Linked DNA regions of Homo sapiens: region 1 is linked to region 2. The links come from fine-mapping of genetic effects on gene expression. A gene starts in region 2. The other region holds a variant in brackets. All regions are shown on one strand. Distances are between the middles of the regions. Region 1 holds the start of PRR35 (proline rich 35). Region 2 holds the start of RHBDL1 (rhomboid like 1).

Region 1 (13,130 bases), 110 kb before region 2:
TTTGGCCTCCCTGTACTCTGAGCTGTGAATATTTTTAACCCTGTAAATACGGCCAGCTCTTGTGACACAGAGACTATTTTATCAATTGTCAGTCCCGTTCCTTTACCATAGGATTCTCCACAGTGGCTTCCGACTCAGGCTCCAATGGACCAAATAAAAGCGTTTTGTTTTGTAATCACGCCTCCTCCTCCTGCTGTTGCCCCGCGCAGGGCCCTGTGGAAGGGCGGGGAGGTTGCAGGTCTGAGGGGTAGGCCCTGCCCAGGCATCCCGGGCAGGCGGACGGGTGGGGGCCCCTGGAGATGGCCGTGGTGGGGTGACTCACAAGCTTGTAAGGGGCAGCCGGCCCTGCCAAATGGACGCAGCCAGGAAGGACGGAGTGACTGGGCGGGGGCAGGGGTCAGACCCTGCGGCCGCAGCCCCAGGGCCGGGAAGGACTGGGCAGACGGGACAGCAGCGCATGCAGCTTCTTCCAGCGAGGCATCCGCACGGGGGGCTCTGTCTGAACCCATCAGTCACCCGGCAGGAGCAGATGGAGTGAGGGGGCGCGTGGGGAGAAAAGTTTCCTGTCCCCTCCCAGCCTCGTCCCAGGGTGGCCTCTGCCCCCACACGGGTGCTGCTGAGCAAAGCGCCCGCTCGGAGGCTCTGCTGTCTCCCTGGACGGAGTTGGGGGCTGGGGTGCGGCCGGCGCGGGGTAAGAGGCTGTCACGGGCAGCGTATCGAATGTGAAAGCAATTAAAGCCACCAGCAGTGTTCGCTCCGGGCGGGCCTCGGGCGGCGGGGAGCTGCCAGAACACATCTCACCTCGGTGCCCGCGGACGCCGGCCCTGCTGCTCCGCGACTGCGCCACGTCACACTCCTCCTGTGGGTGGGGGCCGGGCTCGTGCCCGCTCCTGTTTGGCACAGAGCTGGCTCTGTCTAGTCCTGGGGTATCTGGGACCCCCGTTCCTCCCGAGACCCTGCTCCTCTGTCCCTGGCCCCACCCCCACCACCACCCACCTCTCTGGCTTCTGCCACCCCAGTCCTGGGGTGGCCCAGGACAGAGGCCCACAAGAAGGACCCTCCTTCTTGCAGGAGTCCCGCACAGCAGGCAAGGGGTCCGTGCCCACCCCCTCAGCTGCCCAGAGTCCCCACTAGCCCAGCCAGCAGCCTCCTCTCCACTTGAAAGCCCCCGGGAGCAGCTCCCACAGGGAGGTGATGAGGGAAAGGGGGGGCGTCTGCAGAGGACTCAGGGTCCCACAGCACAGACCCTGCCAGGTGTTGGGCCGGGGCCACGTGAGGGGCTGCTGCGGAGGCCTGGAGGAGGCGGCTGGCAGCAGGTAAGGGGAAAAGATGCGAGCGTCCTGCAGGCAGCAGGGAGGATTGGCTGGGCAGGACACACAGCCCTGGCGCGGGGCAGACCTTGGTGGCAGCTGTCGGGGCTGACTCCTTCCCACTGTCACTGCCCGGCCCCCGCCCAGCCCTCCCCTCCCTTCTCTGTGCAGGCCTCTCCCCTCCCCCGCATCTCCTCCTGGGTCTCACCCCCACCAACAGCACCATCTCTCTGGTGTATCTGGTCTGTCCCAGCCCTGTGCCCCCACGGTGCCCTCTCCTGGCCCCTCTTGTTGGCGCTGCTGGCCACAGCCTTCCCGGGGTGGGCAGTGGCAAGTTCTCACTTATGAGGCATCGCTGTCAGAAGCATTTAGTGTACAAATTAGCCGTGGCCTCCTCGCCTCCTTCCACAGCTCTGGGCTCCAGGCTGACTGGGCCGCGGCTCCAGGCCCTCTCCCGCCTGCCCGGGGCGCACTGCTGCCCAGTGTGGACCCCTGGCTGCCTGCCCATGTCCTGGCAGGAGTGCCCGCTCCCCACTGGCCGGCCAGGGCTCCTCTAGGACCCCGACCTAGACCTGGGCAGGGGTGGCCATGGCAGGCCGGGGGTGCTCAGTGAGGTTTTGGGGGGTGGGAGGCCAAGGCCCAGGACCCGGATCTACCCCAACAGTGGCCAGCCCTGGTGCTGAGGGCTATGGGGGGGCTGGACATGGGGCCCCACCACCCCACCTGCCAGTTGGAGGCCCCGCCACCCCGCCCGCCAGCCCGCCTGCCACTCAGGCGGGGAAAATCATCTGTGACAGGCCCAGGAAGGCCAGCCCCGGGGGCCGCAGAGAGACACACACAGCTCCTCTTCCCAACATATGGCTGCTGTCGGCCCCGGGCGCTGCTGGCCAGTGCCAGGCTCGGGAGCCGGTGGGGGCTCGAGCAGCCTCAGCCTCCCGTCCCACCCGCCTGGCTGGCTGCCCCCTCTGTCAGTCTACATCCCAGCCTCCTGGGACGGGGCTCACTCCCACCACAGCAGCTCAGCCCTCCAAGGAGCGTCCTGTACCCTCCTCCGTCCCAGAGGCTCAGGACACACAGAGGGTCAGCCCCGCACCCGGCCCAGGGTGGCCAGTGACCCGGCACGTCTATGAGAGTGTAGTGCATGGGGAAGGGCCCAGCTGGGGTCTTCCAGAGCCGGGAGGCGGGTGGGGAGGGGACTCTCTGGTGTGGACTCTGGGATGGTCAGGGCTGCTGGGGAGGACTATCCCTGGTAGTGCTCGAGCCGGAAGACTCCTGGAGCCCCCATTCAGGCGCCTCCTAACAGGGCCCCCGTTCCCTCAGGTGGATGGACCCAGGGACCCCAGAGCTCCGCAGGCTCTTCGTGTGCCCCCCACACCCTTGGGCCGTTGTCCTGGGCGCTCTGGCCCACTCGGTTGCCCAGCCCCCTCCGTTCTCCCCTGGCACCCCCACTGTGTACCCGCCCATCAAGGCCAGCAGCCTCAGGCTGGTGCCGAGGGCCCTCACGTGTATCCATGACCCCTTCCGCCAAGGCTGGGCTGCCCCTCTCAACCAGGGATCCTCAAGTGGGCAGCAAGGAGGAAGCCCCCAGGAGGCCTATGCTCTGTAGACCTGGGGTTCTTGAAGTGCTCAGGGTGGCCACAGGCCCTGGGGTCCGTTATTGAAAGGACAGACATCAGCTGTGTCCGGACACCTTGCAAGGTACTGACCCCACGTGGGGGCTCCAACCTGCTGCCGCTGGATAGATTGCCCCGGTCTCAGGACCTGCGTGGGGCCTCCAGCCTGGCTGCAGCCCTGACACTGCCCTCACTGTGTGGGTGCAGGCACCCCGGCCCCTGCACCTGTCCTGACACTGGCTGTGTGTCGACACTGAGGGGATGAGACAGGCCTGCCCCCGGGCACTGGCCATGCCGAGCGCTGCCTCCGCTGCCTTCTCTGAGCCCAGCTCTCCGTCCTGCCCGTGAGCCCCCGGCACAGAGTCCCATTGTTAATGGAGGTGACAGGCGGGCAGCCGTGGGCAGACCGGGCAGAAGAGGTTAATGGCCAAAAATGAGCTTCTGGCTGGAGGCAGAAGGAGGGGCCATGGGGTCCCCATCCCACCCTGCACTGGGACTGGCTAAGGAGACATCAGGGCACCCACTAGGACCAGAGCAGAAGTGCCCGGACACTGAGCACCCCACTGCCCATTCTGCAGATGGGGGCCATGGGCCAGAAAGTTGGGGGGGTGGGGGCACAGGTGCCAAAACAGAGTCCCAGTCACTGCCTCAGGAAGCAGAAGCCACCTCTCCAAACCCAAAGTCAGCCCAGTGTGCAAGAGCTGGGACCAAGCAGGTGGGTCATGGCCACAGTGAGGAAGCTGACGTGCCCAGGGGGCCCTGTGGTTGCGGGGTGCTGGCACTGATATCCCGGCCTCGCCTGGCTGTTTGTGATGGGAACAGTCATCTGGGCACCCAGTGTACTGGCCTCACATGCTCCTCACCCCCCACCTCGTGCACGGCTGAATCTCAGGACCCCCACCAGCAGGTGCAGGGCCCCCTCATCCTCCCTGCCAGAGTCCTTCCGGGAGGCCAGAAACACGTCCAAGTTGTGCCCCGGGGCCCCTCTCGAGGCTGCCCCTCTTCTCTTCTCATGCAAACTTCTGCAAAGGCCCATCGGTGGTGAGGGGTGGAGGTGCTCCTTCAGCCTGCTCAGCGCTAGACACGGCCTTGTTCCCCCTCTGGGGCTCCTTGGTCCCCTGAGCTTCACTGGGCTTTATTTCCTGTATGCTGACATCTAGGTGCTCCAAGACCAGGCCTCCCTGCTCCCTACTTTCCTCCCCTGGACAATGGCCAGAGCCTCCAGCCAGTTGGTCTCCTGTGCTGTCAGCTGTGGCCTCTTCCAGACCTTCAAAGGGGTCAGTCTCGGGCTGGCCACTGAGGGACTACTGGTGTCAGGGTGACCTTGGACCCTAGTCTCCCGGGGCAGTGCTCAGCTGAACACGTCCAGAGTAGAGTCTATGTACAGAAGCAGCCGGCCTCCTGGCCCCCGCTCTCCACGGGGCTGCTGGCGTGACGGCAGCCCAAGCTGTCTCCCGGCCCGGAGCTGCCTGCACGGTCAGCTGGTCAGCTGGGCCAGGCCAGGTGGGCAGAGAGAAGGCTGGCATGCTCTGCCATCCACAGCACCCCTCCCAGTCCCCTGCCCCGCCCCAGGGACTTCCCTCAGACGGGCGTGTGCGGCTGTGTCAGGGAAGGTGGCATGGAGGCAGGAGGGAGACAGAGCCCCACGCCCACCCCAGAACCAGGGGCTGTTCCTCATGGACCCTGGGTGTGCTCTACCAGGGGGCTCTGCCAGCAGCCGGACCGGGGCCACGGAGATGCTGCTGAGCTCTCTTCTCTGCCCCATTCGAGGGGTGACACCCAGAAGCCCCGTGGGGTCCTCCCTTCTTCCCCAAGGCACCCCTGACCCCGACCTGAGCTGGGGACAGCCCGGGAGCCTGCGGCTGAGCCTGCAGAGAGCCCCAGGTCCTGGGGAGCTATGTGGGCCGGGCTCCCTGTGCTGTTTCAGAGTCAGCAGGGAGTAGCACACTCCCCTCTGGCTGGAGACCCCGAGACGCCCGCCTACCGCAAGTGTCGGGTTTAGGACGTCTCCCCTGAGCGAAGTCAGGGGCTCTGCCCCAGCCATGCCTGTGTCCGGGAGGGAGCAGGCCGGTCAGGCGAACCTCCCCTAGGCCCCAGCTGAGCAGTGGGGCTCCAGGCCTTTACGTTCTGGCAGCTCAGGGAGCTGCTTGGAACTTGGTGCAGCCCGGGAGGTGGGGCTGGGAGCAGCCCTGGCCCTGCTTCTCTCCTCCACCGCCCCAGGTCCTCTCAGGAGGGGACTCCCGTGGGGAGGGGGTCTTTCAAACAGCAGGGAAGTGCGTGGCCTCGTGGGGCAGCGCTGAGGCACCTCCCACAGGAGCCGGGAGTGAGGGCTGGAGGGGTCCGCATCCAGGAAGGGGGAGGGTGCTGGAGACCAGCCCCAGGTGGAGGCGGTCAGCCGGCAGGGCGGGGTGCGAGGGGCCGGTCCGGGCAGCCTCCGGTTTAGAGGAAAAGAGAACGGAGGGCAGGGCTCGCCCAGGGAGGGCAAGGAAGGGAGCCCGGCTCCGCTGGCTCAGTCCGCGGCACCCCTGTCCCCCAGGACAGCCCCCAGGGGCCCTGGCTCGGGTGGGCCGGCGGCTGTCAGGGGCCAGAGCCCTGATGGATAAGCGCTGACGGCCCCTCTCCCGCGCCCCGCGCCGCTGACACCCATCACGCCGCGGCGGGGACCCGGGAGACCTGGCGGCCTCTGTGCACCCCCGCGGCAGCCTGCGGGCAACGGGGGCGGGAGGCGCCGGGCGCCCCTGACTCGGCCGCACACCTGCGCCGCAGTCCGCTCTCCGTCCGCTGCCTCCCGGGTTCCCGGCCGCTCCACCGCGCGCCCCGAGAGCTGAGCCGGTCCCGGCGCACGAGGCCGGTGAGTGCGCGCCAGGGGGCGGCGGGGGGCGCGCGGGCGGCGGGGGCGCGGGGTTCGGGCCGGGGGCTGCTCCTTCCCTCCCGCCGCGAGCGCGGTCGGAGGTCGCAGCGCCCCCCGGAGCCCGGAGCCCAGGCGCACGCGCGCCCGCCTCTGCCGCCAACTTCGGGAGGTGCGAGCGGCGTCGGGGGGACGCGGGCGGCGGCGGAGGCTGCGGGAGTCGCTGCCGCTCGAGGGACCGCGGACCCGGGAGGTCCGGCTCCCGGCGCCGGGCCTCAGTTTCCCCCACGGGAGCCGCATCCCACCCCCAGAGCCCCAGCGCGTCCGCGGGGTCCGAGTCGCGGCCGGCGCGGGGCGGGGAGGGGCGGGAAGTTTGCGCCCTACACGCGGCCTCGCAGACTTGGCGGCTCCGCTCCCGGCCGGGCGCAGGTAGGAGCGGCGGGAGCCGCGGGGGCGGCCAGTTGGGCGTCGCGGGGCCGGCTGGACGCGGGGCGCGGGGGCAGCGGGTGGCCAGGCGTGTGGGGGGCGCGGGGGGCGGCCGGGTCCCCCCCACCCTCTTCTCGAAGTCCAGGAGCAGCGCGGGGGGAGGGAGGGCCGCCCTCAGGGGCCAGGCGGGGAGGGCAGGGGCCGGGTCTGGGGTCTGGGGCAGACGCCTGACCTCGCGCTCGCCGCACCCGCCTGTGTGGGGCGCCCTGCGTTCCCGGGGGGGGGGGCAGCAGGATCTGCGGGTGGCCGATCAGGGTCCCCGGCTGCTGGGTGCCCCCTCCTGCCCTGTGGGGGTGCCTGTGCCCCCCGTGCCACCGGTTCTCCCCCAGCTCTCCCCCAAACAGGGACAGGTGAGTGGGGCCGGGTGTCGGGGCCTGGCACAGGGCTGCTGGCTGCCCCGGGAGCGATTGCCGGGTCCGGCTGGGACGCGCGTGTGAGTGCGTATGCGTTTGTGTGTGCGTGTGGCTGCTGTCCAGGGGTGTCTTTTGCTCTGTGTACACACACCAGGTGGGTGCCAGCTATCCTCCGGGTCCCCAAGGGGTCAGCAGCTGCTGAGACAGCCCCTTGGACAAGCCCCTGACCCGGGAGCCCCCGGTCCCTGCTGGGAGGCGGGATGGGTTGTGGCATCGGCTGGCACAGCTGTGTGGCTCCCAGGGCTGGGTGATCGATGGCCCGGCACAGCCGCCTCTGTCGCCGGAGCGCCCACACCCATTTGTCATCCACATGGGTGGGGGGGGCGGCGGGCAGGGAGAAGGGGCCGCCTCTGCACCCACCACCCAGTCCAGGCCGGGTCTGCAGCCCCTCGGGGAGCCCCAGGACCTCTCCTGGCCCAGCCCCTGCCTCCCGACCGCCACCCTGTCTCAGCCACAGACCAGCTGGTCAGCCTCTGCCTGCCCCTGCAGCCCGTGACTGCCCTGCAGGGCCCCAAGCCTTTGGACGAGTGGACTTCTCCAGCCCTGTTGGTCGTCCCCCCAACGGCACCAACACAGTGTTTTGGGGGCAGCAGACAGCAGTGCCCCAGCCCTACCCTGCTCAACCCACTGGCCATGCATGACCACGGGTGCGACCCCCAGCCAGGTCTGCGTGTGTCCTGGGGAGTCGGTGTGTAGGGCCTGTGTGAGCATGTGAGTGCCGTGTTGGAGTGGTTTGGAAAGCCCCCCCACACCTGGATGGGTGGTGAGTGTGTTATCACGGACAAGCAGCCGTGTTCACCGTGATGGAGTGTGAGGTGTGTGCAGCCAGGGCCCCGCACTTGGTGGCAGACTCCGTTCTGAGCTTAGGTGGCACAGAGGTGGCTTCTCCGGGCACTGGGTGAGGGCTCTGTGTGAGCCTGTGGGCTGTGTACACACACCCAAAGCCCGTGTGCGCAGGCGTGCTGTGCACCCCACACAGGCGCGTGCTGGGGCGGTGGACAGCCCAGGTGGCGGCCCAGATGGAGTGTGGCGCGCATACCAGCGCCGTGTGGGGCGTGGGGAGGAGCGGGTCTTGGCTGAGTGTGGCCGCTGCAGGCTCGGCCGCTGACCTGCCCGAAGCCACCCAGATGGAGCTGGGCTGAGCAGGTGGCTGAGCCGTGGGGCCATGCTGGGACGTCCACTCCCCACAGCCTGGCCTGGCCCCACATGAGACTGACCCCCTAAGAGACCCCCAGTGCCCACCTGACGCCCTGCTAGAGCAGGCTCTGTGCCGCCTTTAGACACACACGCATACACACGCACTCACACATGCATGCATGCACACATGCACACACAATGCACACACGTGCACATGAACACAAGCATGCACAGAGGCACATGCACACACAGGCGCACACACGTGTGCACACACACGCACATGCACGCACACACACGTGCATGCACACGCACACATGCACACACACAGACACACACAGGCACACACACACACACGCAGCATCATCCCACACAGACCCTTCCGTTGGTGTCTCATCTCAGTGCCTTTTCCTAGGCTTTGAACAGGCAGATTGGCAGGGGCCAGGGTTGCTGGAGGGAATGAGACCAGGAGGCTGACGTCCACCCGAAGTGAGCTCTGGTCACGCTGATTCTTTTAGCCACTCACATGCTGTGGGGAGATGGGTGTGGGCTGAACTATCCTAGAAATTGGCCAGCAAGTCGGCCTGGCCTCAGGGGTGGGGATGTGTGTAGGGTCAACCGATAAAATAAAGGACGCCTAGTTAAAATCGAATTTCCGATAAACAATGAACACCTTTCTAGTGTGCCTTTCCAATATTGCCTAGGCTACACTTAACACTCAGAAATGACGTGCTGCTGATCGGCGTCAGATGCAGCTCGCTGTCCTGGACTTTTTTTTTTTTTTTTGGTGCCCTGGACTTTGCTGCCACCCTGGAAGTGCACGTGGGGAGGAGCCGAAGGATGGGGCTCGGGGGGCACGTTGCAGGGCAGAGGCGGCGGGGTGGGGGGAGCACCCAGGCTCC[A/G]GTCCCTGGAGCCTGGGGAGCCATGGATGGAGAGGAGTGGGGAGTTAGTCAGAGGCAGGCTTGGCACTGACTGTGGCCCCATCTACAGGTGGCCATGGTGCCCGGCCCTGCCTCATAGCAGGCTGCCATGTCGCGGGAGGCGGGCTCATGCCGCGTGGGCACAGGGGCGAGGGCGCGGTCTCGGAAGCCCAAGAAGCCACACTACATCCCGCGGCCCTGGGGCAAACCCTACAACTACAAATGCTTCCAGTGCCCCTTCACCTGCCTGGAGAAGTCACACCTCTACAACCACATGAAGTACAGCCTCTGCAAGGACTCCCTGTCCCTGCTGCTAGACTCCCCAGACTGGGCGTGCCGCCGTGGCTCCACCACGCCTAGGCCCCACGCACCCACCCCAGACCGCCCTGGGGAGTCCGACCCCGGCAGGCAACCCCAGGGAGCACGGCCCACAGGTGCTGCCCCCGCGCCTGACCTCGTGGTCGCCGACATCCACTCCCTGCACTGTGGCGGAGGCCCCAAGTCCAGGGCCAAGGGGTCCCCAGGGCCACCACCCCCTGTGGCTAGGGCCACCCGGAAGGGTCCCGGCCCCAGTGGGCTCCTGCCTGAGTCGTGGAAGCCGGGGATGGGAGGGGACCCAAGGGGCGTGGGTGCGGGGGACATGGCCTCAGCAGGCCCTGAGGGCAGCGTCCCCTGCTATCCCCCGCCTGCCCCAGGGGAGTTCCCTGAGGCCCACAGCCTCCACCTGTCTCTGCTGGGCGTCAACTACCCGCTCAGCCCCGGCCTCTTCTCCTACTTGGGGCCCTCACTGGCCGCTGCAGCCCATGTGCCCTTCCTGGCCTCGGCCAGCCCCCTGCTGCCCCCGGCCACGGCCTTCCCAGCCGTGCAGCCCCCTCAGCGCCCCACCCCGGCCCCCCGCCTGTACTACCCGCTGCTTCTGGAGCACACTCTGGGGCTGCCAGCAGGCAAAGCTGCCCTTGCCAAGGCCCCTGTCTCCCCCAGGAGCCCCTCTGGGACTCCGGCTCCTGGCCTGCTGAAGGTGCCAGTTCCAGGGCTGGGGCCCTGGCCCCGAGTCACCCCCAGGGACCCAGGGCAGGAGGGGGAGCTGGAGCGGGCAGCCCAGAGTGACCCCAGGAGGAGGCTGTCCCTGGGAAGCAGGCTGGAGCTTCCGAAGGCATCCCCCAGCCTGACAAGGTTCTGTTCCCGGAGCAGGTGGGCGTCTTGGGCTCCCGGTTCCTGGGGTGGACGGAGGGGCTGGGCGGCTGGGCATGGCGGTTGGGCGGCTGGGCATGGCGGCTGGGGTCCGTCCTGAGCTCAGTCGCTGGGAAAGTGGGCTCCAGGCCACAGAGGGGAACTGAGACCCGAGAGCCAGCGCGGGGGTCCTCGGGGTCTCCAGGAGAGCCTAGGCTCTAGGCTGGGGCCACAGGGCAGAGGCCGTGAGGGGAGAGGGGCAGGGGCCGGGGGCGCTGTGGGGGCAGTGCGGCCTCCTGACCAGCTTCCACCCCACAGCCTGCCCACCGGCTCCTCTGTGATGCTGTGGCCTGAGGACGGGGATCCAGGCGGCCCTGAGACCCCCGGCCCTGAGGGCCCCCTCCCCCTGCAGCCACGGGGCCCAGTGCCAGGAAGCCCGGAGCATGTGGGCGAGGACCTGACCCGAGCCCTCGGTGACTACGCCAGGGTGGAGCAGCGCCTGGGACAGTTGGGGCCCGCGGGGGGCCTGGCCCCGAGACCCCTGCGGGAGCAGCTGGGCAAGATCCGCCTGGAGCTGCTCACCATTCACCAGGCGCTGGAGCAGGCCGTGAGGCCGCCAGACGCACCCCTCGACCTCTCTGTGAAACGTGCGCCCGCCAAGGGGCCCCAGGCTCTTGGAGAGGCGTGGGGGCGGCCCGAGCTGGGTCCCGTGTTGACCGGGGGCACCCCCGAGCCACCCGGCATGCTGGGCCCTGCAGCGCCCCAACCCTTCTCTGGCCACACCACCAAGTGTGAGGCCGACTCCAGCGTCCCACCCCCAGGGCTCCCCCTCGCAGCCCCAGATGACCCTGTCATTCCTGGCAGTGGCTGGGGCACCTGTGTTGCGACGAGGAGTTCCCAGACCCCTGAGGCTGTCTGTGGCCTGCAGAGCCCCCAGGGCGCCGAGGTCTGACCTGCAGCGCCTGAGGTCTGACTGTCTCTGCCTGCAGCATGCCGGCCCCTCTCCTGCAGCCCCTGCCCCTCACCTGCCTGGGACCTGCCCCGCCTCCGCATGCATGTGGATAGACCCCCACGGGCCGTGGCCAACGCTTGTCCCTGGGGCCACACAGGGACACTGGAGGTCACAGTTATTTATTGATCACAATTGTGGACATTAAAACAGAAACTGTTCACACACGCCGTCTGTGCCTCCTTCCTTTGGGGCCCTAGTGTAGCCACCTGGACACCCCCCTAAGGAAGTGTCCTGGCCTGGGAGGCCTGGGTGGGCAGCAGTCCTGCTGGGCCTCTGTCTTCAGACTCGGCCCTCTCCTGTGGGCTGGGCCCTCCCCGCGGGGCTGGGGTCTGGGGGTGGGGCGGGACATCGGCGACGGGAGCTGAGCCAGGAGAGCCGTGTGGACTGGGCTGCTCGGCCTGTGTCTTGGTGTGTCGGGGGTGGAGAGGCGTGTGGACTGGGCTGCTCGGCCTGTGTCTTGGTGTGTCGGGGGTGGGCACGGACCCCTGAACATCCTCTAGCCTCTGAATCCAGCAAGGCCGCGCTCATATCAGCTCTCCTGCGGTTAAACGGTGGCCCCGGGGCTCTGTGGCTGGAGGCTGCTCACCCAGCGTGGGCTCTGCTGGCCCCTGCCAGCCCCTGCAGCCGTGATAGGTATCAGCCTTCACAGCTCACTGCCTCCCTCCCAGCAGGGCCTGGCTTGGCCCTCCCACGGGCAGGGGATGGGCAGACAGGGAGGGGCACCCGGGACCCCCACAGCAAATCACTTCTCTCCTGGGAGAGCTGGCCACACCCTCCACGCCCACCCTGGAATGGGCTCTGGAGCCCACATCGCCCCCCCAGGAGGAGAAGCAGTTCCTGCCTGCGTCCAGCCGGGCTGGGGCCAGTCCAAGCAGGCTGGCAGCGGCCCCATTAACTACCAGGGAGATAGCATCAGCCCCGACCCTGCCTCGGGGCAGCTAGAGCTGGGGTGCTGCCTGGCCAGGCGCGGAGTGCTGTGGGGACAGGTCCCAGCCGGGCCCCTCTACCCAGAGGCTTCCTGGAGGGGCTGCAGGGGGCTCTGGGCAGCCAGGAACTGTTCCCAAGTCCCGAGTCTGAGGGAGACTCCCTGTCCTCAGCCCCCGCCCCCCATATGTCCACTGCACCCCATATGTCCACTGCACCTCAGTTTCTCACCCCCACTGAGCAGACAGGTGAGCATGGCCTTGCTGGGGGCAACAGCACCCGTCTCCCAGGTGTGGAGACACGACCTCCTTCGCTGTCACCCGTGGGGAGCAGGACAGGCCTCATGGAGGGTGCCTCAGCCAGCAGGTCACCCGCCTGTGGTCCAGACCCAAGGACCCTGCTTGGGGGTGGCAGCCTGGGGCTGCCTTGCCACTTGGAGTAATGAACTTGCTGGTTGTGGGGGGACCATGGGGGACCCCTGGAGGGGGGTGGGCTGCATGGCATCTGGCCGTGTAGGGGACGTGGGAATAGTGTCCGGGCAGAGGGCGCAGCCTGCAACAAGGCGCGGAGGCAGGAACACCACAGCATGGGGAGTCCTCAGGGGACCTGGTTTTTCTTTCATAGAAGCTTCAGGGGCCAAGGCCGGAGACTGCACTCTCCCTCCTCCACCCGGCCCAGCTGCGTCCCTGCCAGTGGCTCCTCCCACTTCCTCCAGTTCTAGTTTCCAACAACAGAGGCTGCAGCCACCCAGCCCCGAAGCAGGGCCCAGCGAGACAGGGCCCAGGTAAGAGACCCCTCCCCCCGGCCTCTCTCGGTGGGGCAGGTGGAGGCCCTCGGAATAGGCTGCCTCGCCCCTAAGGGGTCAGAAGTCTCCCTGACCTAGGGGCTCGGGTAGAAGGGCTGTGTGTGGGTGACCGCCCCCCCGCCGTAGAAAGGGGTTCCACAGGCAGATGGATTTGAGAAATGTTGCTTATCTGTCTGAGGCCCATGAGCTCATCTGGGGCTCAGGGGAAAACCCACAGCGAGCTCCACGGGTCATGTGTCTCCCAGACTCAAGTCCCAGGCACCTAGACACTAGGGTGGCCGCTGGGCTTGGTGGCCAGGTAGACCCTCAGGACCAGGAGGACCCGGCCTCATAGGAAGAAACTGGAGGAGTGACTTTGCCATTCCCACACACAGTGGGGCCTTATTCTCTCTCTTGCAGCCCCAAGCGTGACCCAGCTGCAGAGAAGCTGAGACGGTGATTCGGACTGACTGGACTCTGGCCTCCAGGTGTCTGCACCTCACACTGGACCCACCT
Region 2 (8,515 bases):
AACCACCTTGGCTACCAGTTTGTGCAGAGAGTGTTTGAGAAGCACGACCAGGTGAGAGCATGGCGAGTCCCCTGCCCCTGCCCCCGCCCCCTCCCCGGCACACACATCACCACATCCCTCCTTCTGCAGGACCGCGACGGCGCCCTCTCGCCCGTGGAGCTGCAAAGCCTTTTCAGTGTGTTCCCAGCAGCGCCCTGGGGCCCCGAGCTCCCACGCACAGTCCGCACAGAGGCCGGCCGGTTGCCCCTGCACGGATACCTCTGCCAGTGGACGTAAGTGCGGCCCACACCATGCCCGCCTGCCGCACCACCCTCCCCACCATAACACTGTGCCTGCCTCCCGCCCACCCCCAGCCTGGTGACCTACCTGGACGTCCGGAGCTGCCTTGGACACCTAGGCTACCTGGGCTACCCCACCCTCTGTGAGCAGGACCAGGCCCATGCCATCACAGGTAGGCACCCACCCTCCCTGGGCCTGGGCCCAGTATCCTGGCAGCTGCCCTAACCCGTGTCTATCCTCACAGTCACTCGTGAGAAGAGGCTGGACCAGGAGAAGGGACAGACGCAGCGGAGCGTCCTCCTGTGCAAGGTGGTAGGGGCCCGTGGAGTGGGCAAGTCTGCCTTCCTGCAGGCCTTTCTCGGCCGCGGCCTGGGGGTAAGCACCCTAGACTCCCCCACCACCCCAGGGGCTCCAGGGGCAGGGCAGGGCAATCTGGGGGGCACTGCAGCCAGCGAGTGTCAGGACTTCACCTCCCTCAGCACCAGGACACGAGGGAGCAGCCTCCCGGCTACGCCATCGACACGGTGCAGGTCAATGGACAGGAGAAGTACTTGATCGTGAGTGCTGGGGCGGCGCGGCCTGTGCCCGAGGGTGGACCCGGGGACACCCAGGCCTGCCTGGCAGATCTGGCCCAGCATGGCCCTAGGGGGACCGAGCCCCAGGGACCCTTCCTAAGGCCGCTGTCTGTCCCAGCTCTGTGAGGTGGGCACAGATGGTCTGCTGGCCACATCGCTGGACGCCACCTGTGACGTTGCCTGCTTGATGTTTGATGGCAGTGACCCAAAGTCCTTTGCACATTGTGCCAGCGTCTACAAGGTGGGGCCCTGCAGGGGCCACGTGGCCATGGGGCAGGGTCTGTCCCTCCAGCTGTGCCTCGGCCACCCCAGGACTGTACCTCATACCACTCTCTGCCCACAGCACCATTACATGGACGGGCAGACCCCCTGCCTCTTTGTCTCCTCCAAGGCCGACCTGCCCGAAGGTGTCGCGGTGTCTGGCCCATCACCGGCCGAGTTTTGCCGCAAGCACCGGCTACCCGCTCCCGTGCCGTTCTCCTGTGCTGGCCCAGCCGAGCCCAGCACCACCATCTTCACCCAGCTCGCCACCATGGCCGCCTTCCCGTGGGTACCCAGTAGCGCAGCCCTGGGGACTAGCAGTGTCTGTCATCCGAGCAGTGGGCAGCGGTGGTGTCAGGCCTGGAACTGGGGACTAGCAGTGTCTGTCATCCGAGCAGTGGGCAGCAGTGGCGTCAGGCCTGGAACTGGGGCCAGAGTGGCGGGGTGGAGCTTTGTGTGGCAGAGGGAGGCAGTGCCCAGGCATGTCCCTCCAGGGCCTGGCCTCCACCGGCTGTGCCTCTGGTCTGGGATCCCCGCCTGTGGGGCCCTGTGAGTCCAGGACATGGGAGGGTGCCCAGCAGCAAGCTGGGGGCATGTGCCTGAGGTATCTGCAGATGATTCTTCTCTCTTGCAGACATTTGGTCCACGCAGAGCTGCATCCCTCTTCCTTCTGGCTCCGGGGGCTGCTGGGGGTTGTCGGGGCCGCCGTGGCCGCAGTCCTCAGCTTCTCACTCTACAGGGTCCTGGTGAAGAGCCAGTGAGGCCCCTGGTACCCAAGCCCCCTCCCCTGACCTGGGTGTGCCTCGCTGCTGGGGCTCTGCAGGGGCAGCACAGCTGGGGTGCAGGCCAGGCTGCCACTCCGGGAACGCCTTTGCGCCGGGACTTTTTGTTTCTGAAGGCAGTCGATCTGCAGCGGGGCCTTATGCTGCCATGCACTGCCCTGGCTCCTGCCGGACCCCCAGGGTGGGCCGTGGCAGGTGGCTGAGCAGGAGCTCCCAAGTGCCGGCCACCGCTGTCAGGGATTGCCCACCCCTGGGCATCATGTGTGTGGGGCCGGGGAGCACAGGTGTGGGAGCTGGTGACCCCAGACCCAGAATTCTCAGGGCTCTACCCCCCTTTCCTGGTCCTAGGTGGCCAGTGGGTATGAGGAGGGCTGGAAGGCAGAGCTTTGGGCCAAAAGCAGGCGTTGGGGGGTCCCCCCTCAAGTTTGGAGCCGTTTCCGTGGTTGTAGCAGAGGACCGGAGGTTGGGTTCCTGATTAAACTTCACTGTGTGTTTTCTATCTCGGATCCCAGTCTCTGAAGACAACTTGCTTTGATTCAACCTAGAATGTGTTGTTTGTCTTTATGTGGGCTGGAAACGCCACCCCTCCTTTCATTCCTGGGTCACTGTTCTGAGGTCTCAGGCGTGTGCATATGGCCTCTGGAAGGTCCACTCTGGGCTGCTGTGGCCTGGGAGCCCAGTGTCCTTGGAGGTCCTGCGGTCTGGGAGTGGGAGCCCACTGCGGGAGGACGGTGCGCGCCCGGCATGGACTGGGGGGCGCCGGTGCCTGAGATGTTTCCCCGGTGACTGACCCCTTCTCAGGGTCCAGTGTGCCCTGGCACTGCCCACTCACTCCCCAGAGCGTCCTGCCAGCCTGGCTGAGCTGCGCCGAGAACCTGGGCTTGTGTGACCAGATGTGGTCACTGCCTGCCACAGAACGGGGTGACCCTGGGGCCCTGACCTGAGGGAAGCAGGATGGGCCAGAGGGAGGGACGGGCTGGGAGTTGAGCCCAGATGCCTGCTTCTCGGGACCCAGGGCGTGGCCTTCCCAAGGTCACCCGGACAAGTATCAGAAGGCCTGGTCCCCCCCCTCCCATGTCTGCCTTTAGGGAGTGGCAGGTGGGGCCCCTTCCCAAGTCCTGGCCCACACGGGCCCTGCCTTGGAGCTTGTGGCATTGGCCCCTGAGGTCCCTCCCGACTGATGGTATTTGAGCCCGCTGTACCCCCACGGCCTGTCTTCTGGGACTACTGCAACCCTAGGAGAAGCCCTCTGAGTGGCCCTTGCAGGGGCTGCCATAGTCACACGTGTCTTATCTGTCACCTCCATTGTGGAGGGGTTGGCCCGCCTTCCCAGGAGCAGGTCCCCTCATCCCAACTGCAGCCCTGCCCCCTGGGGGTTCTGCTCTGTGTTGGAATGCCCCTTGTGCCCAGCCCTGGCGCCGCCTTAGGGCGGGAGGTTTTGCTGTCCTGCATGGAGTTGCAAGAGTGGTCAGGGGCCTCCAGCCCAGGGTGTGGACGAGTGGGCTGGGCTTGGTCGTCAGAGCCAAGGCGGCTGCAGCAGCGTCTTCCTCCTCCTAAGAGGCGGCTGTAGTGGCCATGCGGGACGAGGGACTTCCTTGCTGCTGCGCTCGGTGGGGGGTTGCGGGGGGAGGGGGTGTGTCTGCTGCAAGCAGGGAGCTCCAGCCGGTGGCAACATGAACCGCAGGGAGTACTGGGTCAGCCTGGAGGGGGAGCAAGCAGTGGTCAGGGAAGGCTTCCTGGAAGAGGTGGCATCCTCACAGGCCTGAGCCCGGGAAGGCTGTGAGAGGGCGAACGGTCTTGCATGGGGGGTTTTAGGTGCCCCCCATCCCCGTGACTCCATTTACCAGCGGCTGCCGTGGAGGTAGTCCAGTGTGCTGGAGCTGCGCCAGAGCGGGGGTGGGGGCCGGCGCTGAGACGCGGTGCTAGCTGGAGGCGGTTCCTGTCCGGGGTGTGCGTCCGCGTGCAGGGTGCGCGCGTGTCTTGGCCGCGCGTGGCGGCGTGTGCGGCAGGGGCGGGCAGGCGGGCGACTCGGTGACGCGGCCCAAGCGCGGCGCCGAGCGGAGCGGGCGGAGCGGGCCGGCTGGGGCGGAGCGGAGTCGTCCGCAGAGCAGCCCCTCCCGGCCGCGGCCGCCGACCCCGGACCCCGGCCCCCGGCCAGGCTCTATGGACAGGAGCTCGCTGCTGCAGCTCATCCAGGAGCAGGTGCGTCGGGGGGTGGTCTGGGGAGCTGGCACCGCCCCCAATGCGGCCCTCCTGCCGCTGAGCTGAGCTTGTGCGGGACCGAGCTCCCCGAAAGCCCCGCTCGGTACCTACCTCATCCCTCCACGACCTTGGTCCGTGTGTCTGGGACCCCAGGAGAGGACTGACTGGACCAGAGCTCCTGGCTGGAGAAGGGAGAGTCGGGGGGAGGGAGGGAGGGAGGGAGGGAGGGCGGGCAGCTGGCTGGTCTTGGACCTTGGCCCTCGCTTTCCAGGATGGGTAGGGTGGAAGACGGGGGAACAACTGAGGAGCTGGAGGACTGGGACCCAGGCACCAGTGCCCTGCCAGCTCCTGGGATCAAGCAGGGTCCCAGGGAACAGACAGGCACGGGGCCCCTGTCCCAAAAGTGCTGGGAGCCTGAGCCTGATGCTCCCAGCCAGCCTGGCCCAGCCCTTTGGTCCAGGGGTCGGGCCCGCACTCAGGCCTTGGCTGGCGGCTCCTCACTGCAGCAGCTGGACCCCGAGAACACAGGCTTCATCGGTGCGGACACCTTCACTGGCCTGGTGCACAGCCATGAGCTGCCCCTGGACCCGGCCAAGCTGGACATGCTGGTGGCCCTGGCTCAGAGCAACGAGCAGGGCCAGGTCTGCTACCAGGAGCTGGTGGACCTGGTCAGTGCCACGGTGGGCAGGCGGCAGGGGCACGGTGTCCTGGCCAGAGGAGGCGGGCAGGCAGCTCCTCACGGCGGTGGGTGGGGGGCTTGTGGATGCGGGGAGCTGGGTGAGCCTCACAGGCAGGGGTGCCATGGGGAGGTCCGTGGCCCACACTCAGGCCCCTGCCCCCAGATCAGCAGCAAGCGCTCCAGCAGTTTCAAGCGGGCCATTGCTAACGGACAGCGGGCACTGCCCCGGGACGGGCCGCTGGATGAGCCAGGCCTAGGTGTCTACAAGCGGTTTGTGCGTTACGTGGCCTACGAGATCCTGCCTTGTGAGGTGGACCGCCGCTGGTACTTCTACCGTCACCGCAGCTGCCCACCCCCCGTGTTCATGGCCTCGGTCACTCTTGCCCAGGTGGGCCCCCCGGCCGCTGCCCCGGGAGCCTCCCGCGCTCCTGGCCATGACCAGCCTAACACTCGTGTCCCCAGATCATCGTGTTCCTGTGTTACGGGGCCCGCCTCAACAAGTGGGTGCTGCAGACCTACCACCCCGAGTACATGAAGAGCCCCCTTGTGTACCACCCCGGGCACCGTGCCCGCGCCTGGCGCTTCCTCACCTACATGTTCATGCACGTTGGGTGAGTAGCACTGCTGCCCGGTGAGCCCCGCCCCAACCTGCCATTACATCAGAAAGGCTTAGCCGCAAGGCAGGTGCGGCAACTTGAGGTGACGGCTGGGGGTGGGGCCGGATGGCTGACCCCACCCTTCGTACCCGTTTGCTTCCCTGTGGCCAGGCTGGAGCAGCTGGGGTTCAACGCCCTCCTGCAGCTGATGATCGGGGTGCCCCTGGAGATGGTGCACGGCCTGCTCCGCATCAGCCTGCTCTACCTGGCAGGCGTGCTGGCAGGTGAGGCAGGCGCGCACCCCCGCCCCCTGCCCTGGCCGGCTGCACCCTCACCCGCCGCTTGCTCACACAGGCTCCCTAACCGTCTCCATCACCGACATGCGGGCCCCGGTGGTGGGAGGCTCCGGCGGGGTCTACGCCCTGTGCTCGGCACACCTGGCCAACGTTGTCATGGTAACGGGCCTGCCCGGTGGGGGGCGTGGGGAGGGGCCCCAGGTGAGCCTCACCACTTCTCGTCTGCACACACCCATAGAACTGGGCTGGGATGAGATGTCCCTACAAGTTGCTGAGGATGGTGCTGGCCTTGGTGTGCAGTGAGTAGGGGCCGGGGGGAGGGCCGGGGGGCCTCTCAGCCTGCAGCCAGGGCACCTCCCACCTGCCGCGTCCCTCTGCAGTGAGCTCCGAGGTGGGCCGGGCCGTGTGGCTGCGCTTCTCCCCGCCGCTGCCCGCCTCGGGCCCACAGCCCAGCTTCATGGCGCACCTGGCAGGCGCGGTGGTGGGGGTGAGCATGGGCCTGACCATCCTGCGGAGCTACGAGGAGCGCCTGCGGGACCAGTGCGGCTGGTGGGTGGTGCTGCTGGCCTACGGCACCTTCCTGCTCTTCGCCGTCTTCTGGAACGTCTTCGCCTACGACCTGCTGGGCGCCCACATCCCCCCACCGCCCTGACCGGCTACCTGAGGCTGCACAGGCCAGGGCTCGGGCATGTGGTGGCCGCCCACCAGGGGCCTTCACGTCTGCCCTTTGTGAACGGACGTCTCAGGGCTGCTGTGCCCCTTGGGTGTGGGTGGCCTCAAAGGAGGCCCTGTCCCAGCCACCCACCCCCCACTCCCAGGACTTGCGGTCTGAGCCTTTTTGGATAATTAATAAATATTTTACACAGCACCAGGGGGCTGTCCCGGGCTCTGGAGACTCGTCAGGGCCCCCACACCTGCTGCACAGACCGCGACGGCCCTCCCCACCACGGGGGCCTGGACTTCCCTCCTTGTGCATCTCTGCACCTGGGGTCAGGCGTGGGAGTTGTTCCTGGGCCACAGGTGCTGTGTCTGTGGGAGCTGGGGGCACGCGGGATGGCTGGGGGCCGGGCGTGTGGTCAGGCCAGGTGTGTGGTCAGGCCGGGTGTGTGATCAGGCGTGAGTTTGGGAAGTGTTTATTGAGCTCCCGTAGTGGCCAGCCTCCTCTTCAGCCTCCCTGCCGTCCAGTGAGACCCGGAGGCCTGAGGTTCTGTGGCAGGTGAGCAGGCCTGGGCCATGGCCAAGTTTACTCGGCCTGGGTTCCATGCTTCTTGGCTGGCCTAGCATCCTCGTGGGTGGCCAGGCTGGGGCCAAGGTTGGGCAGCAGGTCTGGGCACAGCCTCTGCCCCACAGCCCAGGTCCACAGTGCTGTCTCCACTAGGTAGGGAGTCCACTGTCCTGAGGCACTGGCTAGGGAGGGGCACACGGACTCAGGCCCAGGGGCACGGGCCACCCCAACCTGCCCACACACAGTTCATTCCCCTTGGCTCAGAGCTGTGGCCCGCTCTTGAACCTGGCCCAGGTACAGCAGGTAGTACCTGAGGGTGTACTGTGGGGCCGGCCAGCCGGGCACTGTGGCCACCGCCTCATCTGACATGAAGGCCTCCATCTCTGGAGCTCCAGCTGCCAGGACTGCTGTGAACAGCGAGGAGAAGCAGCCAGACACACCCCATCAGGACAAGCTCTGGGAGACCCTGCTCCCAGCAGCCCAGGGCCCTATGGTTCCTGCTCCTAGCGACACGCAAGGGCCCAGACTGCCCGCTTCACAGACAAGAACGCCTATGTACCCAAGTCGTGCCCACCCAACTCACCCGAGGCTGTGGTGGGCCCACACCGCAGAGGGCACACAGCTCGGTGACTGCAGCCCCCACATCTGGCAGGAGGCAGAAGGTGGCGGTCGAACAGTGCACAACCAGCTCAGGGGGATTGGTGGCCACCAGCTGCTGCAGACGTGGCCGGAAGCGCCCCTCTGTGGGAGGCCAGGTCAGGGTGCCTGGGGTGCTGGACCCACCAGGGAGGCCCCGCCCCCACTGGAGACACCCGCCCCGCCGATGCCACGCCCCAATGAAGACCCGCGCTACGGAGGCCCTGCCCTCGGGGCGGGCCGCCCTTCACAGTCAAGCTGCCAGGCCAGCAGCCGCTCCAGCTCCCTGTCACATGCTTCTCTGCTCTGCCCCTGATGGCCGCTGGCAACTCTTCCCGATACCTGAGGAAGGGCGGTGAGGGGAGGACTGGCCACGGAGGACGCTCGCCCCACCGATCTCTATCCCCTTCCACTCTACCAACAGTCCGGGGCTTCCAGCCGCCCTCGGGGGCTCGCGCTCGCCCGTAGCACCTCTCGTGGCGCTCCAGAATGGCAGCCCAGCGACTGGGGTCCTCACACCCCACAGCGCGTGGGAAGCCGCTACGTTCACGCGCAGGGGCGGGAGGCGGCGGCTGGGGGCGGGGCCTCTGCTGATGGGGCCGGGTGCTGGGGGCGGGGCCTCTGGATTGGGCGGTTGCTGGGGGCGGGGCCTCTGCGGATGGGGCTGGGGGCGGGGCCTCTGCTGATGGGGCCGGCGGCTGGGGGCGGGGCCTCTGGATTGGGCGGCTGCTGGGGGCGGGGCCTCTGCGGATGGGGCCGGCTGCTGGGGGCGGGGCCTCTGGATGGGGCCGGCTGCCGGGGGAGGGGTCTCTGCGCGTTGGGACAGGGGCGGAACCCCAGGTGGTCGGGACAGGCTGTTGCGGGAGCGCGCCCTCAGCGAAGCAAGTGAGGCATCTCACTGGGAAAGTCGAATGTGTGTGGCGGCCGCCGCCGAGGCGGGTTCCGAAGAGACCTCAGCAGGGCAGGCCAGGGCCTACGCGAACG

Evidence for each region.
Region 1: its variant is fine-mapped to the expression of RHBDL1 in subcutaneous fat (GTEx, PIP 0.94).

What each region holds. Positions count from the first base shown.
Region 1 is chr16:554,462-567,591 of GRCh38, forward strand. PRR35 (proline rich 35) reads left to right here and starts at 5,933. Exons shown (of 3, transcript NM_145270.3): 1 at 5,933-6,200; 2 at 8,795-9,915; 3 at 10,213-11,068. The coding sequence starts at 8,834. The coding sequence ends at 10,846. NHLRC4 (NHL repeat containing 4) reads left to right here and starts at 12,544. Exons shown (of 2, transcript NM_001301159.2): 1 at 12,544-12,614; 2 at 13,010-13,130. CAPN15 (calpain 15) reads left to right here. Exons shown (of 14, transcript NM_005632.3): 14 at 1-175. RefSeq lists enhancers at 6,057-6,603, 6,604-7,149, 10,183-11,079, 11,975-12,870, 12,819-12,868. The variant A/G (reference allele first, on the strand shown) is at 8,707.
Region 2 is chr16:671,731-680,245 of GRCh38, forward strand. RHBDL1 (rhomboid like 1) reads left to right here and starts at 3,941. Exons shown (of 8, transcript NM_001278720.2): 1 at 3,941-4,099; 2 at 4,606-4,767; 3 at 4,942-5,166; 4 at 5,241-5,389; 5 at 5,546-5,658; 6 at 5,729-5,829; 7 at 5,909-5,969; 8 at 6,051-6,538. The coding sequence starts at 4,061. The coding sequence ends at 6,322. It overlaps RHOT2 (ras homolog family member T2), which reads left to right. Exons shown (of 19, transcript NM_138769.3): 12 at 1-51; 13 at 130-272; 14 at 354-451; 15 at 524-654; 16 at 759-836; 17 at 973-1,095; 18 at 1,198-1,400; 19 at 1,750-2,441. The coding sequence ends at 1,876. It also overlaps the pseudogene STUB1-DT. RefSeq lists an enhancer at 3,233-3,767 and silencers at 3,966-4,015, 8,159-8,268.